Regions from separate parts of the Homo sapiens genome. Here regions 1, 2, 3, 4 and 5 are each reported to be linked to region 6. Evidence: microRNA targets listed by miRTarBase, many of them from high-throughput screens and not tested one by one. Region 6 holds a microRNA gene; each other region holds the end of a gene's coding sequence. Distances are from middle to middle.
Evidence for each region. Region 6 holds the annotated microRNA hsa-miR-6727-3p (UCCUGCCACCUCCUCCGCAG, at 1,703-1,722, opposite strand). A microRNA usually pairs through its seed, bases 2 to 8, with sites in the 3' UTR of a target mRNA and lowers its output. Matches are read on the target gene's strand: a 7mer-m8 pairs with bases 2 to 8, a 7mer-A1 pairs with bases 2 to 7 and ends in A, and an 8mer does both.

Region 1 (3,118 bases), not on the chromosome of region 6:
AAGCGATTCTCCTGCCTCACCCTCCTGAGTAGCTGGGACTATAGGCACGTGCCACCATGTCAGGCTAATTTTTTTAAAATGTATCCTTAGTAGAGACGGGGTTTCACCATGTTAGCCAGGATGGTCTCGGTCTCCTGACCTTGCGATCCGCCCGCCTCAGCCTCCCAAAATGCTGGGATTACAGGTGTGAGCCACCACGCCCGGCCGAGAATAGCTACATTTTTAAAAGATACTTAGCCTGGCCCTACCTCTAGGTGGAAATATCTGTGCCACCAACTGAGGAGCTGAGAATGGGGTGGGGCTAAGGCTTAAGGGTTTCACGACACTAAAAAAAATTGACGAAATGCTGGAAGGTTGGGTCATGAGGGCAGGAAGCAGAGGAGTTGGAGCCTGGTTTCTGGGCCATAAGTAAACTTTACAAACTTCAAAGCTCTCAGAGACCTCTAGGTAATAATCACGGCATCTTTAATTGGCAAACTCAGGGCCAAGATCTATCTGGCTGTCAGTCTGGGCTGAGAACTGGTGTTGCAAGCTGGGCTTTCCCCAGGCTGTGTTGAGGGTTAGGGGAGGGGACTGAGATGTACACTGGAAATTAAAACCTGGTACAAAGGTATCTCCTACTGCCAAGGTTCCTCTTCTCACCCCATGTGCCCCTGTGATAAAGTGACACACGAGTCAACCCGCCCCAGAAAAGCTGAGGGAGAGAGAGACCACGGTGGGATTGGATTGGAGATGAGGTTCGAATAAAGTCAGTTCATTACTTGACACCCGAACAGTGTCTTTTCTCCAAAACTTCTACCTCCTTTCAGGCTGATAAATCTGGTTCCTTCCTCCCTGGGTAGGCCAGACACAGGGCTGAGCTGGGTGACAGGTGAGGGCGCACAGGCCAGCAGAGGTCACAGGCCCTTGCTCTCCTTGGGCAGGTGTTGTCCTGACCAGAGGCAGGGCAGGGGCTGCCCGTGGCTGGACTCTGCCCACAAAGGAATTAGTGGTAGCTGGATAATGGAGTCGTGAAGTGCTGGAGGGATTCCGTGTAGAACTTGGGGATACAGATGGGTACGGTTGCCACTGGCTACAAATCTAACACCAGGTGTTCCTGGCCTAGCCCCCTCTGCCCATGATGGCACATACTTAAAGACAGCAAAGATGGTGCGTACCTAAAGACAGGAAAGATGCAAGGACTGTTTTGACACAGACATGGGTTCAAGAAATACTTCCCTTTCTTCTTTGCTGTACTTTAAGATAAACACCAAAAACACTAAAAGCAAGCCATGATGAATGGCTACTCATGCTTGGTCAGGAGCTGATGGGATGAGTGGCCGGACCACAGTAAGTTGGGAGTTCTGGCTCCGGCCCAACTCCCAACAACTGCGACTTTCTGAGAGCCTAGGTGAACTTGCGAAATCTTTGGATTTTTCAAGAGATGCCAGAAACCTGGATTTTGGTGCAAAATATCCCTTTAGATCTTCATCACTAATTCTTATCACTTAAAAACACTGCCTGGGCCCAAATCAATACAGCAACTGCAGGCGAGATCCAATACAGGGTCACTGGTTTTTTAGGTTGTGCAGCAAAAAGACAATGAAGGCCAGTGCAGTGGCTCCCCTGTAATCCCAGCACTTTGGGAGGCCAAGGTGGGCGAATTGCTTGAACCGAGGAGTTTGAGACCAGCCTGATCAACATAGTGGGAACCCCATCTCTGCAAAAAAATTTAAAAATTAGCCAGGCATAGTGTTGCCCACCTGTAGTCACAGCCATCTGAGAGGCTGGGGCAGGAGGATTCCTTGAGCCCAGCAGGTCTAGGCTGCAGTGAGCCCAGTTCACACCACTGCATTCCAGCCTGGGTGAGGAGCAAGATGCTGTCTTAATAAGTAAATAAATAAACAAAAAAAACAGACAATGGGTATTGTCTTGTGGGAAGGTCAAAGAATAAAAAAGAAAAGGCCAGGTGAGGTGGCTCACGCCTGTAATCCCAGCACTTTGGGAGGCAGAGGTGGGTGGATCACCTGAGGGCAGGAGTTCGAGACCAGCCTAGCCAACATGGTGAAACCCCATCTCTACTAAAAATACAAAAAGTTAGCCGGGCATAGTGGCAGGTGCCTGTAATTCCAGCTACTTGGGTGGCTGAGGCAGGAGAATCGCTTGACTCCAGGAGGTGGAAGTTGCAGTGAGTCGAGATCGCACCATTGCACTCCAGCCTGGGCAACAAGAGCAAAACTCCGTCTCAAAAAATTAAAAAAGTAAAAAGAAAAAGACAACAGAGAAAACAAGGTTCTTCTCTACCTCAATCCTCTTAGCATCTCTGGGAGGAGAAACAGCTTTTGCTTCCCTGTATGGAGGTCTGGGGGGTTCTCACCTCAGCCCTGCCTCAGCAAAGGGGGCCTTGGAGAGCCCAGGGCAGCGGGGAGCAAGGTGCTGGCAGAAGAGGCTGCTGAGAGCCCAAGATCAGACTGTCCGCACCCCAGGCCAGCTCTTGCGGTGGATTCTGGGACCTCCCTGCAGGCCGCTGCAGAGGTTCGGGCCCCTGAGCCCATCTCGGGCCGCCCACAATGTCTAGATGGTCACTTTTTAGGCCGTCACCCACATTCCTGGAATATCTCTGGATACAGCTGGAAGCCCACAGGCGGGTCCAGGTCCCCGCGGACAGGAGTCAGGGTCACAGACAGCCCCCCAGGGCGCCGGCCCCTACGCCCCTCGCCCCCGGGCCGATGGACCCATTGGTGCTTGGCCATGCCGGTCTTCAGGCCGAAGCAGCGGCCACACTGCGGGCAGCGGTAGGGCTTCTCGCCAGTGTGAACGCGCAGGTGAGAAGTCAGCGCCGTGCGGCGCATGAAGGCCCGACCACACTCGGGACAGCGGTGGGGCCGCTCCCCACGATGGATGGCCCGGTGTTTGCTCAGGGAGGAAGCGTGGCCGAAGCCCTTGCCGCAGTCTGCGCAGTGGAAGGGCTTCTCGCCCCTGTGGCTGTAAATGTGCTCCACCAGTGTGGAGCGCCAGGCGAAGCTCTTCCCGCACACGTAGCAGCCGTGACGCTGGTCAGCTCGGGGGACAGGGGGGTGGGCAAAAAAGCGGGGGCGACTCCGGCGCCGGGCCTTGGACAGCTGCTCCAACCCGGCAA
Region 2 (3,118 bases), 150 Mb from region 6:
CCCGCACCCTCCAGCTGCGGGCTGAGGAACCCCCAACCCCTGCCCTCCCCAACCCGGGGCAGCTGTCCCGGATCCAGGACCTGGTAGCAAGGAAACTGGAGGAGACTCAGGAGCTTCTGGCAGAGGTTCAGGGACTGGGAGATGGGAAGCGAAAGGCCAAGGACCCCCCTCGGTCTCCGCCGGATTCTGAGTCAGAGCAGCTGCTGCTGGAGACGGAACGGCTGCTGGGAGAGGCATCATCGAATTGGAGCCAGGCAAAGAGGGTGCTGCAGGAGGTCAGGGAGCTGAGAGACCTGTACAGACAGATGGACCTGCAGACCCCGGACTCCCACCTCAGACAGACCACCCCGCACAGTCAGTACCGGAAGAGCCTGATGTGAGGGCAGGGTGGGGTCTGGAACTTGTCGGGTTGGACAGACTCTTATCTCCGTGTTGCTGGATAAAGCTTTTTTATTTACCTCAATCAAAAAAAGAAAACAAAAATGAACTCATTGCTCTTGCTGATGCCTGACCCCACTACAACCCTTATTGCCCCACCTACTTTCCATATGCCCCTCGTATGCCCCTCAGGTTTGAGGAAGTGACCCCGCAGCAGTAGCAGGAAGTTTTTACCCAGCCAGAGAGAGAGAAGGCACGGTAAAGACACAGTCTGACCACTCCACACACCGCCCGCCCCCAAGACGGCACAGGGAGTCCACTGCTGCTCCCAAGGATACAGTGGGCTTCTAAGCTTAGAGCGGGAGGGGGATGAGGATGTTTTCTGTTATGTCCCACCCCAGGCCTTCAGTTTGAGGGTGAAGTTTCAGCTGCCCAACTCTAGTTGTAGGGATGTGGAGGCCAGTGTCACCTGTCCGTGCACATGGAAGTGAAATTTATCCCAGCCCTGAGGAGGATTTGTGGAATTAAAATCTCCCCAGCCAGACACTGGCTTCTCATTCCTAGCAGTCTCTCATTGAGATCGAGCTGCCTGGATTTTCTTACATGAGGTGTTTCTTCCCTTCATCTTCCACACCCTTCCCAACCTTGACTCAAAGATCCACCCTTGTCGGGCGCAGTGGCTCACGCCTGTAATCCCAGCACTTTGGGAGGCCAAGGCGGGTGGATCACCTGAGGTCAGAAGTTTGAGACCAGCCTGACCGACATGATGAAACCCAGTCTCTACCGAAAATACAAAAAATTAGCCAGGCATGGTGGTGGGCGCCTGTAATCCCAGCTATGCGGGAGGCTGAGGCAGGAGAATCACTTGAACCTGGGAGGCAGAGGTTGCAGCAAGCCAAGATTGTGCCATTGCACTCCAGCCTGGGCAACAAGAGCGAAACTCCGTCTCAAAAAAAAAAAAAAAATCCAACCTTGAGTGGATGAGACTAGTTTCATTATTTGATTCAGGGCCCTAGCACAGGGGAACTAGAGACAGACCCCACAGAAGAACTGAACTAAGAATGAAACTGGTGTGTGATGCAAGCTGGGTAGGATGAAGGGGAAAACCAAACATCTGTCCAAGTTCCTCTTTCAGCCATGCTGAGGTTTCCTGTAGCCTCCCCCTCTCCTTCCTCAAACCTCTTCCATCACTAAGCAAGTCCCCACTTTAGAAAAGCATCTGGATGCCCACGCCACCACCCTCCCAGCCACCTCTGAAGTTGCCAGGCTTCCCAACATTCTTGTCTGTGGTAGGTCCCACACAACTCACTGTTCACTCTTTCCTTGGAAGTGTGTGAGATGAGGTTTAGTAACGGTGAGGTCCCCAGAAGAGCTATGAAGGGAATAATTTGATTTTGGGAAAGAAGGGGACAGAGTCTCATGAATCAAGTAAATGAGGGGTTAAAAGCCACATTGAAGTGTGCCTTGCTAGCTGCTTGATCCTCCAAGAGCAGCGGGGCTTCACTAGAGGTAAGGGGAGGAGGGGGAGGAAACGGGGCCAAGTTACATGTAGACCTGGCCATGACGCTGCCCCGATGTTATAGGAAGATGGGATAGGAGGAAGCGGGGGAAAAACCTGTGGGAGAAACAGATTCTTCAGTCCGCATTCTTCTGCTCTAACGTCACTCCTACAACCCATGTAAGCAAAATGGGGGCCTCTGTCCCCTTTCCAGAAATCATCTCTTTCCTTCACAGCTCTTCTCTGGACCTTATCACTGCTGTTAAACCATCCCTAGGGCAGAGGAATTCTTGCTCTCTCTAGTCCCTTGCCACTCTGTCATGGAGATTGTCCCCAGCTCTAGACTGTAGTTACCTAGCCTCTTCCTTGAAGAATGTGTATCCCAGTTGAGTGAGGGAAAGTGTGCAAGAGTGCCACCTTCATGTCATTCTATGGTCTCTTGGGGTATGAGGTGAGAACCCAGGCTTCCAGACTTCCTGTCCTTCAAATAGCTGCACTCTCCACAGCCCTAAGCATGGTCAGCAGAGCCATCCATTGTCACAAGTATTGAAGTCTAAGGTAGAATTATGCTTTCTTTTTACAAGTCTCTATCTTTGTATTTTACCAGCATTTTTCCTTTTCTTTTTTTCTTCCTTGTTGCTCCCACATAATGAAAAAAGACAAAAGCACAAATGACATGTGTATCCCAACATGTCAATTATCTGTGGCTCCCAGGGGAGCCAGAAGATGGAGGGAGACACTAGAGAGGAGAATGACAGGTGAAAGAAGCAGAAAAGAAAGATCGGGGACCTCACAACAGTAAGAGAGGAGCTGGGCACTGTGCTCCTGGGCTTCAGGCTCTAAAACCAACAGCTTCCAGTTCTCCAGCAGTTACTGGAACATCCAGGCCCTAGGGTGGTGAAATGAGCCCAGCTTTGAAACCAGATGGATCTGGATTCAAATTCTAACTCTGTTACTTCTTGATTATGAGGCTCTGGGCAAGGCACATGCTTTCCGAGTATCAGTTTTTTTCATCTGCAAGCTGCAGAGCTATTGGATGGGTGAGGACAATATGGAAAATGCCTGTCAGTCAGAAAGTGACCACTGCAGCTACTGTTACTGGTTTGACTCTGGGCAGTGAGCCGCTAGCTCAGTTGGAAGGAGCACTGTGTGAATGAGGCCACCGGGGTGGGGTCACTGTCACTTAGCTAGATCCAGGCCACAGGCTGTGCTGGACCTCTCTCTTCAGAGGAGAGAGCCAGA
Region 3 (3,000 bases), not on the chromosome of region 6:
GGCTGCGGCCGCTCGTGTGGCGCGGGCTGCCCTTCGTCACCAGCCTGGCCTTCTTCAACAGCGTGGCCAACCCGGTGCTCTACGTGCTCACCTGCCCCGACATGCTGCGCAAGCTGCGGCGCTCGCTGCGCACGGTGCTGGAGAGCGTGCTGGTGGACGACAGCGAGCTGGGTGGCGCGGGAAGCAGCCGCCGCCGCCGCACCTCCTCCACCGCCCGCTCGGCCTCCCCTTTAGCTCTCTGCAGCCGCCCGGAGGAACCGCGGGGCCCCGCGCGTCTCCTCGGCTGGCTGCTGGGCAGCTGCGCAGCGTCCCCGCAGACGGGCCCCCTGAACCGGGCGCTGAGCAGCACCTCGAGTTAGAACCCGGCCCACGTAGGGCGGCACTCACACGCGAAAGTATCACCAGGGTGCCGCGGTTCAATTCGATATCCGGACTCCTGCCGCAGTGATCAAAGTCCGAGGGGCGGGACCCAGGCACCTGCATTTTAAAGCGCCCCGGGAGACTCTGAATCTTTTTCAGAAACAGTGAGTTAAAGCAGTGCTTCTCAAACCTTGATGTGCCTGTGAATCACCTAGGGGTCTTGTTAAGTGCAGTCTGATCCAGGAGGCCGGGGCCGGGTACTGAGAGTCTGCACTTAACAAGCTCCCAGGCCGAGAAGCCAGTGCGGCAGGTTCACAGGCGAGGCCTGGAGTAACACAAAGTGAAACTCATAATAGACTTCCCACTCTAGGGCAGTGGAGTCGGAAGGGCACACGGGGTGCGTCTCCCCGGAGTTCAGTTTTACCAGATGATGGGGGAGGGGGGAAGGAGTTTTATGTTAAACCATCCATGTATTTTTGGAGAAGAGAGAGGAAAGGTTTGAGAAGCACTGTTCCAGCCTGCCCTCTTCATTTAGCCAATGCTTACTGCGCTAGACGCTTCATCCCACAATCTTAAGGGGCAGCTTCTATTAGCCAGTCTTTACAGCTGAGCACATTCTGGCTCAGGGAGGTTAAGTGACTTGCCCAGTTTCAGGGCTAACGACCACAGGGTCTGCACTCTAACCCTAGGCATCACATGCTCAATGACTCTCTGGTGAGCGAGGACATTCTCTGACCTACTCGAGGGACTTAAGATGCTACCTTGTGACCCAGCACTGCCCAAAGTGCTTCCAAGGCAGAAGCAGCAGGGGATGGCGTGGTCAAGCACTCGGGAAACCTGGGGCTAATCAAATCCAATGGGGGAAATGACTAAAAGTCTTCGGTCGTTAGAAGTTGAATGGGCACAGCAACTCTAAGACTACAGCACACGTCATTTCTTAGCTAAGCGGACCAGCCTCCCTGTCGGCCTGGTGTTCTGTGGGATCCCTCTGGGCACTGGTAATCCCAAGATCTGTGCAGCCCCGCCTCCAGGCCACATGGGGCTGGGCAGCTACCATTTCCCTTTTGCGGATGGGAGGGGTAACTTGCACCTCTGACCTATCACTTCCACTGCACCCCGTCTCATTCCTCCACCTGCCGTGGACTTGGGGTCAGAGACTGCTGTGTTTGAGCTCTGCAGCCCAGGGACCGAAAAGTTGGTGTCAATGAATTTTGCTTGGTGGATGAAATGTCAGTGGAAGAAGCAGATGAGAAACTCTTGAGATCTTGGTCCTGTGTTTTTTCTGCCACCAAAGGCCAGGGTCACTGAAGGCCTGGCCCACAGCAGGTGCTGAGCAAAGGGAACAGTGAGGTGCCCAGCTAGCTGCAGAGCCACCCTGTGTTGACACCTCGCCCCTGCTCCCTCCCATCCCTTCCCCCTTTACTCATAGCACTTCCCCCATTGGACACGTGGTGCATTTTGCTTGTTTATTATGTTTTCTCTCCATCAGAATGAAAGCTCCTCGAGGGCAGGGACTTTGGTCTATTGTCTGTATTTGCCGGTGCCTAGGATTGTGCCTGTATGCAACAGGCACTCAATAAATATTTTTGCTGTAGACTGGACAGGCATGAGTTAGATTCTCTGGGGCTTCTGCAGAGACTGGTTTGGGAAAGTGGGTGCTAGGGAAAAGCTCTGCTCCCTGCAACCTCCCCATTTTAATCTTTCAGTATTGAAAAGTGGAGAGGAACCGGATTCAGTCTGCTGGGGACAGAGGCAGTGGGGTGTGGAGGTGCTCAGAGCAGCCTTTGGGAAGGTGTGGGGGAAGCTGGATTCCCAACTGTCAGCCTCCAGGCCTGGGATGGACCTAGGATGCTGAGAAAGGGCATACACTGCTGAGGGAGTCACCTGCCAGTCACCAGCTCACTGAGGAACCAGAAGAATGTACAGTTCTTGGTTTGAAGGCACTTGGAGAAGGAGAGGAAGGAGGGATGGGAGCTGAATCTCTTCCCGCCCCCATCTCTGCCAGGTCCCAGGCCCCCTCTGGGCTTCTGTCCCACACAGACCTGCCTGGAAGCCTTCAAAGGCCGAGGAGCCCCGGTCGGGGTGGGGGTCCCTGTTCTGGAGCCATGGGTTTGGAGTGCCAGCTCCAGCAGAGGCATCTGAGCAGCGGCCTGAGGTGCTGTGTCTGACATGGTTGTTGGCCATGGAAGGCCTCGGGCCGTCCTGAGCTCAGATCTTGGCTGCCGGCTGCTGGGGCGGCTGCTTCTGCAGCAGGGCCAGGGTGTCCCGCTTCTCAATGGAGCGCAGCTGCTTCTTCTTTGCCCGCTTGAGCTTGGCGGGGTTTCGGATCTGGGGGTGGTATGAGGGGAGGACATTAGTGCAGCTGCAGCCTCGGTCCAAATTCCCAGGGGAGAGGAAGGCCGCCCCACAGGGGCCTGAGATCGTAGCATGAGAGTGGGGGTACATGAGGCAGGGGTCGAGGCCCTGGTTTGCACCCCCAAGTGGGGCAGAAGGGCAGAGGGGGAAAACGAGACACTCACCACTTGGACGACCTCTGCCTTCCGCTCATTCTCCAGGCGGCGTTTCAGGTTCTCAGCCCGGCGCTGTTTCTTCTCCTGGAACATGTGGGAGAAGGGGATTTGAGTCGGGGAGCAGAGGCAG
Region 4 (3,118 bases), not on the chromosome of region 6:
CTGCCCTGGCAGGGGATCCGATGGGCAGCAGGGGCTGGGTGATGCACCCTCCCCTGGGCTGACGGGCACCTCCTCGATGTCTCCCACCAGCCGCCGCCGTTGTGGTGCCCTGCCTGTCCTCCGTGGTCGCTGGCTATGGTGAGCCCCCTTCCCTCGGCCGAAGCCACCTGAGCGGGAGAAGGGCAGTGGTGCCTGACTGTGCCTCTTCCCACAGGCTCACCAGGGCAGAAGGGCACGGTCATGGGTACACTGCGCAGCCTAGGTGCTCTGGCCAGGGCCGCGGGGCCCCTGGTGGCCGCTTCAGGTGAGGGCGCGGGATGGTGCTGGGGCAGGCTGGGGGCCAAGCACCTGCCCTCGCCTCCCAAGTGCCAGCCCCCTCGGGGACTGGGTGACGCCACCGTCTCTCCGCAGTGTACTGGCTGGCCGGGGCCCAGGCCTGCTTCACCACGTGGTCCGGGCTCTTTTTGCTCCCCTTCTTCCTCCTGCAGAAGCTGAGTTACCCGGCACAGACGCTCAAGGCTGAGTAGCTGAGCCACTGTGCCCAGGCTGTGGGCACCAGGCAGAGTGGGAGCCTAGGTCAGGCCCCTGCCCACTGCCTGACCCCCACCCCCCGCCAGTCCAGGGAGACCCTGTGGGTGGGGGCCGGCCCCTAAGCAGGAAGCTCAGGCAGCTCCTCCAGACTTACTTACTCCTTCAGTGACTCCGAGCTGCAGCACTCCAAGGCTGTCAGGGCTTCTGTTTGTTTTTTAAACTATGCACCAGGTTTCTGATGATGAAATAAAGCACCTGTTTGTTTTATACCAAGTGCCTTTCGCCATATATAGCCGTGCTTCTACCCACACCAGGAAAGGCAGCTGGAGCTGAATGAATGGCTCCACTGACCGGAAGGGTCCAAGGCTCTTTGAGACCCTCAGTTTCCCCCTCTGCACAGTGGCAGCCTGGGGACTCACTCAGGCAGGCTCCTCCAAGGCTGGGGTCAGCCCTGGCCAGGTGGTATCTGGCAGTGTGCCCCGCACCCTGGCAGGATGTCCCCAGCACAGAGCCCTCCCCATCAAACATGAGCACACAGTGACAGTGAGACTGGGACCATGGGGACAAGGACAGGCCAGCAGTTCCCTGGACACCCTGAGTTCCCGTGGAGAGGGACACCAGGAGTGCTGGGTGGCACGTCCTGCCGCACGCGTGGCTGCAGGTGACATTTTATCAAGACATGAACATTAGGAGGTCTCTTTTCAGCACGAGACAAACATGGGAACAAAGAAATTAAAATATAAAACTGCTTCCCAGATTTAGACAAGGAACTTGCTGAAAGAATTTTATTTGTGAGTAAAACATGTTACACTGGAGAAAGGACATTCAGGACCTGTCCTCCCAAGTCGGTGTCCATATATGCAACTATATTTCATGTTGTAATACAAAGGATTAAACTACAAAAGTGAAAATTAAAAGTCATTGCATATGTGGGGTAAAGGAGGGGATAAAGGAAGAGTCCACGGTTAAGGACTTTTCATTCTGCCTTGGCAACAAAACGACACAGAAGAGAGGCAGCACGCTTGCCCGCGTAGCAGGCCCTGCGGCTCAGAGGAAGCTGGAAGCGGCGGTCAGTGCCATGCAGCAGCCTGGTTCTCGCTCGGCTGGCCAATCAGTGGGATCCGAGGTGGCTCGGCCCATCATGCCCAGGATCTGAGCCCACATCTGGCACCAGCTCTACCAAGGGCCTGTTGGGCCCACACAAGCTTGCCTGTACCTAGTCAGGCTGGTACCGGCACCTCCTGAAATGGGTCACCCTCCGGTTCCTGCTCAGCAGCTCTGAGCCCTTTTCCAGCCTCTTGGAGGGAAGTAACAACAACAGCATCTGCCGAGGAGCACACGGTTCAGGCTCCATCAATGACGGTGATGTCGAGGGGCCCCAGGGCTACCCTCCACCTCGAGTTACCTTTGATCACAACTAGGGCATCTTTCTGGCTGAGTTAAGGTGAGAACAGTCCCCTGAAGCCTCCCCCAAATAAGTGAAAAGTGCTCTACTGTGGGGTCTGGAAAGAAGAAAGCAAAAAGCAGCCTATTCACGTTCACAGTCGAAAAATGTAAGCTAAATTGTAAACCTGCTCAAAGAAAATTCTAGAAAGGCCTCTTCCCCTCCTGATATACCTTCCCTATGACAGGAATCCAGAGACCCAAGTGAAAAAGAAACTGAGCTCCTGAATCTGATTCTGGTCGAGGGATCGTCGGTCAGACATGCATAGCATCACGTTGGGTGCACACAGGCCCATCTGCCGCTGGGGTTTCCTGCCCAGCATCTGGCCCAGACCTGCCTCTTCAAGGCCGCTGGTGGGCACACGAGTGTTTTCACGGGACCAAGGCTTTGTATATAGATTTAAGTGAGATCACTGAGCAGAGAGAATGCCACATGAAGCCAGGAGTCTGAGTCCGTCACCTGAGACTTTAGGGTGGAGGGGAAGCCAAGCAGAGACAGAATGTGGTGATTTCACAACAGGAGGGACGGCAGGAAAGGTGAGGCTCAGGAGGGTGACGTGCAGCCAAAGCTGCAGAAGCCTTCAGTACCTTCCAGCCAGGACCATGACTTAGTGCCTCCCCCCTGTGGGGAGAGCATGTCTCCCCCAGAAGCTGAGGCTCTGAGAGGACAAGGGGCAGGGTGGGGTGGGGCTGCTGAGCACACACTGGGTCAGCCCGGGGCTACACGGGGCTGGTCACGTGAGGGGACCTCTAGGCGGAGGGCTTGGCTTTTTTGCATTCCATTACACAAGGACAGAGCACAGACGTGGCCGGGGACGCTGGCAGAGCCAGGGTCGCTCCGGACAGGACAGTGTTAGCGCAGGGCTTTCAGGAGTCACTCTTCTTCTTGCTCTTCTTCAGAAAGGACGGGGTACGGAACTTCTTCTTCTTTTTGGACGGGGACTTGCCTGGAGACCCATCGCTGCCAGGGTCCGCGGCGGCCCCCTCCTCGACAGCTGAGGGGGCAGCCTCTTCAGCCACCGGGGCTGGGTCTGGGGCTGGCTCGGGGCTGGCCTCAGTAGGGGCCTCAGTGGGGCTTGGGGGTCTATGGGCTTCCTCCTCCTTCTCTAACATTGGGAAGCCGAGTGCTTCTGAAGGTTCATCA
Region 5 (3,118 bases), 7.0 Mb from region 6:
CATGTCAGCAGCCCACCAGCTGCAGGCCATGCATGCCCAGTCGGCCGAGCTGCAGAGACTGGCCATGGAGCAGCAGTGGCTGCATGGACACCCCCACATGCATGGTGGCCACCTACCAAGTCAGGAAGATTATTACAGGTGAGGTGGGGTGCTGGGAGGGAGTGGAGGGGTTATCTGAGCCCAGGCTCCCAACCTCCCCGTGTGCCCAGGGCCAGGCTCCTCCCCCTCTGCCTGCTGGGCCCTGGAGGGGACATTGTGGAACCATGGTGATGGGAGAAACAGAGGAAGGGAGGTGTTGGGAGGGTAGGTCAGCTACACAGGAGGCTGCGGGCTTGGGGTTGGATTGCCTGGCTGTTGTCTTTGGGGTTGCCTCCAGCCTGCGTGACTGCCTGCCTAGGCCTGAGACTAAATACGCTTTCCTGTTTTGTCTTTCCAGTCGACTGAAGAAAGAAGGTGACAAGCAGTTATAAGTTATTTATTTGTTAACGCTGGCTGTGGAAACCCCAGTTCTTGGGGGGAGAAACAGGACTTTTTACATAAAATAGGAGCTGCAAAAGCAAAAAGAATATCTTCTAAAGATTTCTTTATATATTTAAAAACCCACAACTAAAAATGTATCCACATAGTAGTGTTCGTTTGTCGAGAGGATTTCCTGAGACTGGTTTGGATCTCCCTGCATGACAGTCCCCCAGAAACTTAGTGAGTCCTGGACTGGACTGAACATCCAGAAAGCTTCCCTGCAATCTTGGGGTTTGGCTTTAGTTTTCTTTTCCTTGATTTCTCAGTAGGTGCTAGAATCCAGTTCACACCCTTCACTGTGCGTGCAGACACACTGACACACTCCGCCACGAGTGCTCCAGAGCCCACGAGGCTTGCAGATCGGGGGCATAGGAATTTGGAATCCAAGAGCTATAATTTTTAAAAAAAAAAATCTTTTATTTTAATACATTGTAGGAAATCTTCATAATTGGAGAAAGTTCTGCAGCATGGCTTTTTACGTCTGTAAATAAATAATTTTAGAACAGCCTTTTTTTCTTCCATAAACTACTATTGTGATCTATTTTTTCCAGCCATGTCACTAATTGTGAATTCCTACCAACTATTGACAGAATACAGAGTTGATTTTTTAATAAAAAGTTATATATAATTATCCCTTTAATTAAAGGGAGCAAAGGGGCGTTCCACATGGACAGAGGCTTGGACCGAGGCCTGGTCACAGCAGCGAGCATCCAGGGTTTGCAGGGACGATGTTACAGACTCTGTTTTCTGCCTGGCGTTTCACTTGTGTCTGCTCCTAGCCTGTGCTCTGCCAGCAGCACAGACATCTGCTCCATCAGACCTCTTCCATTTTGCACAGGGAGTGCAGGAGGTGAATGTTCACTTTCTGTTCTCCAGTGTCACTGTTCTGTTTCCACGGGATGGAAAGCGCATGGGCCTGTGTCCATTGTAGATTTCCTTCTAGATTTCTGTGTACACACACTTGATTGTTCTGGATGAATGTCTTTTTTAATACTCCGAAAATTTCATCATCTAAGAAAATGATTCCATACAAATAACTCAGCACACAAGTGACCCAGGACATATGCCTGCCAAAGGGATGTGTTAGAAGGCTGCCTTCTCATGCGCATTGTCACTTGGATCTTGTGGTGAGGACGGCCCCATCTTTCTTGCCACAGATTGAGGCCACTTTTGAGCAAGGGAGATCCTGGAGTTAAGACAGGTGTTGGGGGCAGCCTGTATTTTACCCTAGGGGCAGGTCTGCATGGTGACCCCACATTGCACTGGTAAACCATTTGAGTCCCACTCTTCATCCTGGAAGTGGGAACTGGAGTCCCACCCACAGTGCATTCAGAAAGCATGCTGTGTGGGGGCTGCTTCTCAGGAGGCCAGGCCCTTCTGAGCGGAACCGTCCTGGAGAGAGCCTGCCCTCGTTTCCAGGCTGCAGCCGTAACGCACTTTCTCCCAGGCTGAGGGCGGGTGTTCTGGGGTGTCTGCCCTCTGTCGGCCCTGCTTCCTGCCAGGACGTGGCCTCTTCCGATCCTTTTCTCTCAGACACTGGAGGTCTCTTCTGCCATTGTGCTGGTCCCATCCCAAGAATTGTAGGACAGAGACCACACTGGGTCGGCGGACACAAAGTCCATCCAGGACCCAGGCCGCAGAGGGAGCAGGAAGAGATGCTGATAGTTTGATCTAGAAACCAGCAGCTACTGGCTCAAATTCAGGTTCTGGCGTCAAATAGCGACATTTCCAGTTTCTCTTAAAAACCGTGTTTGGTTTCAGTTGGGATAGGCTTGTTTTGTCTGTTGAAAATGTTTCTAGTTTTTTTTCTTTCATTTTTCTCTCATTCCATTTCTGCCTTAACTTTAGTTTGTTCACAGGGAGGCAAAGCTGACATGAACCTTTTGTCGTGGGACTTCAGGCCACATTGGCTTGAAGGCATTCGTTTCCTTCTGGGGTGGGGACAGGCCCTCATGGCAGGCTTGTTCCCGTGGCTCTGAGCGAGGCCTCTTCCTGCTGGGCTCCCAGACTCCTGCATCCAGGCCCCCACCTTCTCGGCTTCTGGTTTTTCTTTCTTTTTGGTAGAACACAACATCTACCATTCAGTTAAACCTTCTTTATCTCCTCCTTTGGCATCCATTTTTCCAAAGAAGAGTCGAGTCCTCTGAGGTCTGTGCTTGAAAGCCGTCCGAAGGCATTCTTGTTAGCTTTGCTTTTCTCCCCATATCCCAAGGCGAAGCGCTGAGATTCTTCCATCTAAAAAACCCTCGACCCGAAACCCTCACCAGATAAACTACAGTTTGTTTAGGAGGCCCTGACCTTCATGGTGTCTTTGAAGCCCAACCACTCGGTTTCCTTCGGATTTTCCTCCCTTTGTTCGGGGTTTGGTTTGGCTCCTCTGTGTGTGTCCGTATCTTGTTCGGTGTCCTCGAGGTTGAGCTTCACTCCACTGCGGCAGAGGCAGCGTGCACACTCGGATTTGCTACGTTTCTATATATCTTGAAGCTAAATGTATATATGAGTAGTTTGCCATGAGATAACACAGTGTAAACAGTAGACACCCAGAAATCGTGACTTCTGTGTTCTCTCCATTTGAGTATTTTGTAATTTTTTTGAAATA
Region 6 (3,118 bases):
ACGGCTGTGCTGGTGGGTCACGGGCGGCTCTGGGTCACAGGTACGGAGGATGACGGCTGTGCTGGTGGGTCACGGGCGGCTCTGGGTCACAGGTGGCTCTGGGTCACAGGTACGGAGGATGACGGCTGTGCTGGTGGCCGTGGGGCTGGGGGCTTTGGCACCTGCCCAGGTGAAGACGATTCTGGAGAGCCAAGATCCCCTGGGCAAGCACCAGACACGTGTAGCCCCAGCCCACGGCTTATTCCTCAAGTCAGTGCTGTACGGGAACCTCGGTAAGAAAAACAGGCACGAGAAGCTCCTGTCATGTGCCCAGTGACTACTGTGGCCGAGGCATGGGGTGGGGGGCCAGGGGCCACTGACGGCAGCAACTGGGGGTGAAGCAGCCCCCCGCCCAGGGCTGCAGTCCCTCAGGCCAGCCCGTAGCCCGTCCTGGGCTGGCCCACTCCCTGGTCATGGGAGTGGTCTCAGCGGTGGGGAGGGTGCTGGGCCGGTCTTGCCCCAGGCTGACGCAGGGTCTGGTCCGTCCACAGGTGCTGCCTCCTGCACCCTGCAGGGGCCACAGTTCGGGAGCCACGGATGACCCTGGACACTCAAGCCAAAGTTAGGCCACACCAGGCCCAACCCTGTGCTGGTCAAGCCAGGGCAGTCACAGCTGCTTGGGGCCCACAGCACTGCTGCCTGGTCTCCACAGTAGCCTCCCTGCCCGGGTCCCAGCACCCTGGATGCCCGTCTCTGTCCCAGGCGGGATGGGGCACAGTGCAGGACACAGCCATGTACACCAAGAAGAGAGTACCAAGTAGTCTTTTGTTCAGCTTTTACTGGAAACTGCTGTCTAGGACCACCTGCCCTAACCAGGAATAAAGGCAAGACAGCCTGGAGACCAGTTTGTTTCTTCAGCTGCAAACAGCTGCCTGGGCAGGCAGGTGACACAAGGCCTCTGTCCCCAGGGATGGGACCTGCAGGGTCTGTTCACCCAGGGCACCCACAGTCCTGAAGTGCAGGCCCAGGGTCTGTCCAGCTGGGAGAGGGCAGAGGTGGCGGCTGGGTGAGTTGCCGGCCTCAGCTGGGGGCCTGGGGGAGGCCCTTCTTCAGCAGAGATGTGAGGAAGCTCCCCAGCTCCTCGTCCTAGGGCAGAGGCAAAAGCATTGTGGGTGGTGCAGGACAGGGAGGAATGTTGATACCTGTGTTGACCGCGGTGGGGTGGGGGTCACCCCTTACCTGGTAGGTCCAGGAGACCAGCAGCACCTTGGTGCCTGGGTCCTCAGAAGGGGCGGCGGCCTGGAGGAGGACGGACTCCACAGTCACAGAGCCGTCTGGGAGGTGCTGCACACAGTGGTCCTTCAGGACGCTGTGGGGAGGCTCGGTGAGACCCTGCCTGGCCTCCAGGGCCCAAGGGAGTGGGGGGGGGGCGGGGCCGGGCGCCCACCTCTTGAGGTGGCTGTAGACGCGCAATGCCGTCTCCTGCTCCTTGCGTGTGTCATGCAGGTGCACGCGGCAGGTGAAGCGCAGCTGGTGCTCAGCCAGACCCAGCTCTTTGAGGGCTTGCTCTGAGGACACCAGCCGGAAGTTCTGTGGGGCAGGGACAGGTCAGTGAGCGCAGCAGCGGCCCTCCCCCCTCCAGAGACCGTCCTGGCACTCACGCTGTCCTTCATGATCAGGGTGCCGTGCAGGAGCCGAGGCTTCTTGGCCTCAGGGAGCAGCCCTGCGGAGGAGGTGGCAGGAGCCATCAATGTGAGGGCCGCTCCCAGCCGCCTGCCCCGAGCACCCTGCCCTGCCCTGCCCAGCCCGCATACCCTGCGCCATCTCCCGCTTCAGCAGCCCCAGCGAGATGCCTACGGGGATGCTGGGGCTTGTGGGCAGCGTCACCGTCTCGCCATTGGCCGGCATGTAGCAGTTGACCCCTGGACCCCGGGGGAAGAGAGAGCCTCAGCCCAGGCTGCCCGTGCTGACCCGAGGTGGGCCCCACGCCGCCCGCCCGGCTGCCTACGGAGCTCCTGCTCGATCTTCTGCTTCAGGAACTCCATCTTCTTGGCCTCGCCATGCACCAGCAGCACGCTCTCCGGCTCTGCCTGGCCCACCAGCTGCATGATGCCCTTGGCGTCCGCGTGTGCGCTGAATGACATGTACTCCACCTGCATCTTGACCTCCAGCTACAGAGGCCACGGGGCGTGGACAGTGGTTACCACCAGGAGGTGCCCCTCGGCCCTGCCAGCCCAGTGCGGGGTCGAGACTCACCACCTGCCGCCCCTCCATCTCGAGCTTCCGCTGCCCGCTGAGGATCTTGTGGCCGACGGTGCCCTGCACGCAGTAGCCGGGCATGATGACCTGGGGGCAGGCACAGAGCTCACAGCCAGGGAACTCCAGCCTTGGCACCTCAAGGCCTTGCCCGGGATGCCCCCGCCTGAACCCCTGGAAGCTGTTTCCACCTGCCAGCGGCGCCCGACCAAGCCTAGCTGCAGACTCCAAAGGGCTCAGGTTTTGGCACAAGACTGTCCAGGGCTGGGCTGGGGCTGTTCTGCCCGAGGTGGACAAGCTGTGTCACAGAGACTGAGCAGCTCCAGGCGGACATCGCCCCCGTTCCCCAGCAGCAGCAGCCACGTCCCTTGGCCAGCACGAGGCCAAGCCAGTGAGAGCTCAGAGACAGCATGGGTGGAAGGACAACCCGTCGGCCTCCAGCTTCCAGATTCCCACACCTCACCATGCCCTCACCATGTTCTTTTCGTTTCCGGCCCATTTCCGGAAGATCTGCAGGGACTGCCCAGCGTGCAGCATTCCTGGCGTGGCAAACACAACCTACAGGACACACAGGGCCAGGTGGGGGGTCAGGGCAGCAGATGCCCCCACCCCCACTGCAGGCCCAAGCCCAGACACCTGCGGAAGACAGGAGACCGACGGGTGTGGATGTGCTGGCCGGCCCTGCCGCGGGCCTCACCATCGGTCCTGGGTTGTCAGCAAAAGCCCGGTCGAAGGCCTTGATGTGCTTGAACTCAAACATGTTCCTCTGCACGAAAGTCTTGCGGATCTTCTGGTTGGTCCAGGGGATGAACAGCTTGTAGTAGTGGTTGGCCTTCTCGGTCAGCCCCGTGGAGAAGTAGATGGGCACCTTCAGGTTCATGCG

Region 1: miRTarBase lists ZNF747 as a target of hsa-miR-6727-3p. The part of its 3' UTR that is shown has no 7-base or 8-base seed match.
Region 2: miRTarBase lists PLEKHO1 as a target of hsa-miR-6727-3p. The part of its 3' UTR that is shown has no 7-base or 8-base seed match.
Region 3: the mRNA of CCDC86 is a reported target of hsa-miR-6727-3p. Seed matches in the 3' UTR shown: 7mer-m8 at 2,244-2,250.
Region 4: the mRNA of ADD1 is a reported target of hsa-miR-6727-3p. Seed matches in the 3' UTR shown: 7mer-A1 at 2,285-2,291.
Region 5: miRTarBase lists RERE as a target of hsa-miR-6727-3p. Seed matches in the 3' UTR shown: 7mer-m8 at 2,473-2,479.

What each region holds. Positions count from the first base shown.
Region 1 is chr16:30,529,923-30,533,040 of GRCh38, forward strand. ZNF747 (zinc finger protein 747) reads right to left here. Exons shown (of 3, transcript NM_001305018.2): 3 at 445-3,118. The coding sequence ends at 2,577. It also overlaps a transcript of ZNF768 not described here. Among named protein-coding and RNA genes, the nearest start is that of ZNF747, 3.4 kb to the right of the region's middle.
Region 2 is chr1:150,159,144-150,162,261 of GRCh38, forward strand. PLEKHO1 (pleckstrin homology domain containing O1) reads left to right here. Exons shown (of 6, transcript NM_016274.6): 6 at 1-922. The coding sequence ends at 380. LINC02988 (long intergenic non-protein coding RNA 2988) reads left to right here and starts at 1,585. Exons shown (of 4, transcript NR_135098.1): 1 at 1,585-1,667. RefSeq lists enhancers at 1-214, 1,345-1,654 and silencers at 515-564, 2,265-2,334, 2,923-2,992.
Region 3 is chr11:60,849,894-60,852,893 of GRCh38, reverse strand. It overlaps CCDC86 (coiled-coil domain containing 86), which reads right to left. Exons shown (of 4, transcript NM_024098.4): 3 at 2,880-2,954; 4 at 1,813-2,688. The coding sequence ends at 2,569. It overlaps PTGDR2 (prostaglandin D2 receptor 2), which reads left to right. Exons shown (of 2, transcript NM_004778.3): 2 at 1-1,961. The coding sequence ends at 359. CCDC86-AS1 (CCDC86 antisense RNA 1) reads left to right here and starts at 1,813. Exons shown (of 2, transcript NR_182293.1): 1 at 1,813-2,128.
Region 4 is chr4:2,928,247-2,931,364 of GRCh38, reverse strand. It overlaps ADD1 (adducin 1), which reads right to left. Exons shown (of 16, transcript NM_001354761.2): 16 at 1,303-3,118. The coding sequence ends at 2,842. SLC75A1 (solute carrier family 75 member 1) reads left to right here. Exons shown (of 13, transcript NM_001146069.2): 11 at 91-138; 12 at 215-304; 13 at 412-798. The coding sequence ends at 527. Among named protein-coding and RNA genes, the nearest start is that of SLC75A1, 5.0 kb to the left of the region's middle.
Region 5 is chr1:8,352,439-8,355,556 of GRCh38, reverse strand. RERE (arginine-glutamic acid dipeptide repeats) reads left to right here. Exons shown (of 23, transcript NM_001042681.2): 22 at 1-138; 23 at 437-3,118. The coding sequence ends at 470. Among named protein-coding and RNA genes, the nearest start is that of SLC45A1, 36 kb to the right of the region's middle.
Region 6 is chr1:1,310,800-1,313,917 of GRCh38, forward strand. MIR6727 (microRNA 6727) reads right to left here and starts at 1,767; the gene lies at 1,703-1,767. PUSL1 (pseudouridine synthase like 1) reads left to right here. Exons shown (of 8, transcript NM_153339.3): 7 at 110-272; 8 at 531-878. The coding sequence ends at 580. It overlaps INTS11 (integrator complex subunit 11), which reads right to left. Exons shown (of 17, transcript NM_017871.6): 9 at 2,933-3,118; 10 at 2,710-2,793; 11 at 2,236-2,325; 12 at 1,988-2,150; 13 at 1,794-1,901; 14 at 1,641-1,702; 15 at 1,427-1,569; 16 at 1,219-1,348; 17 at 801-1,125. The coding sequence ends at 1,060.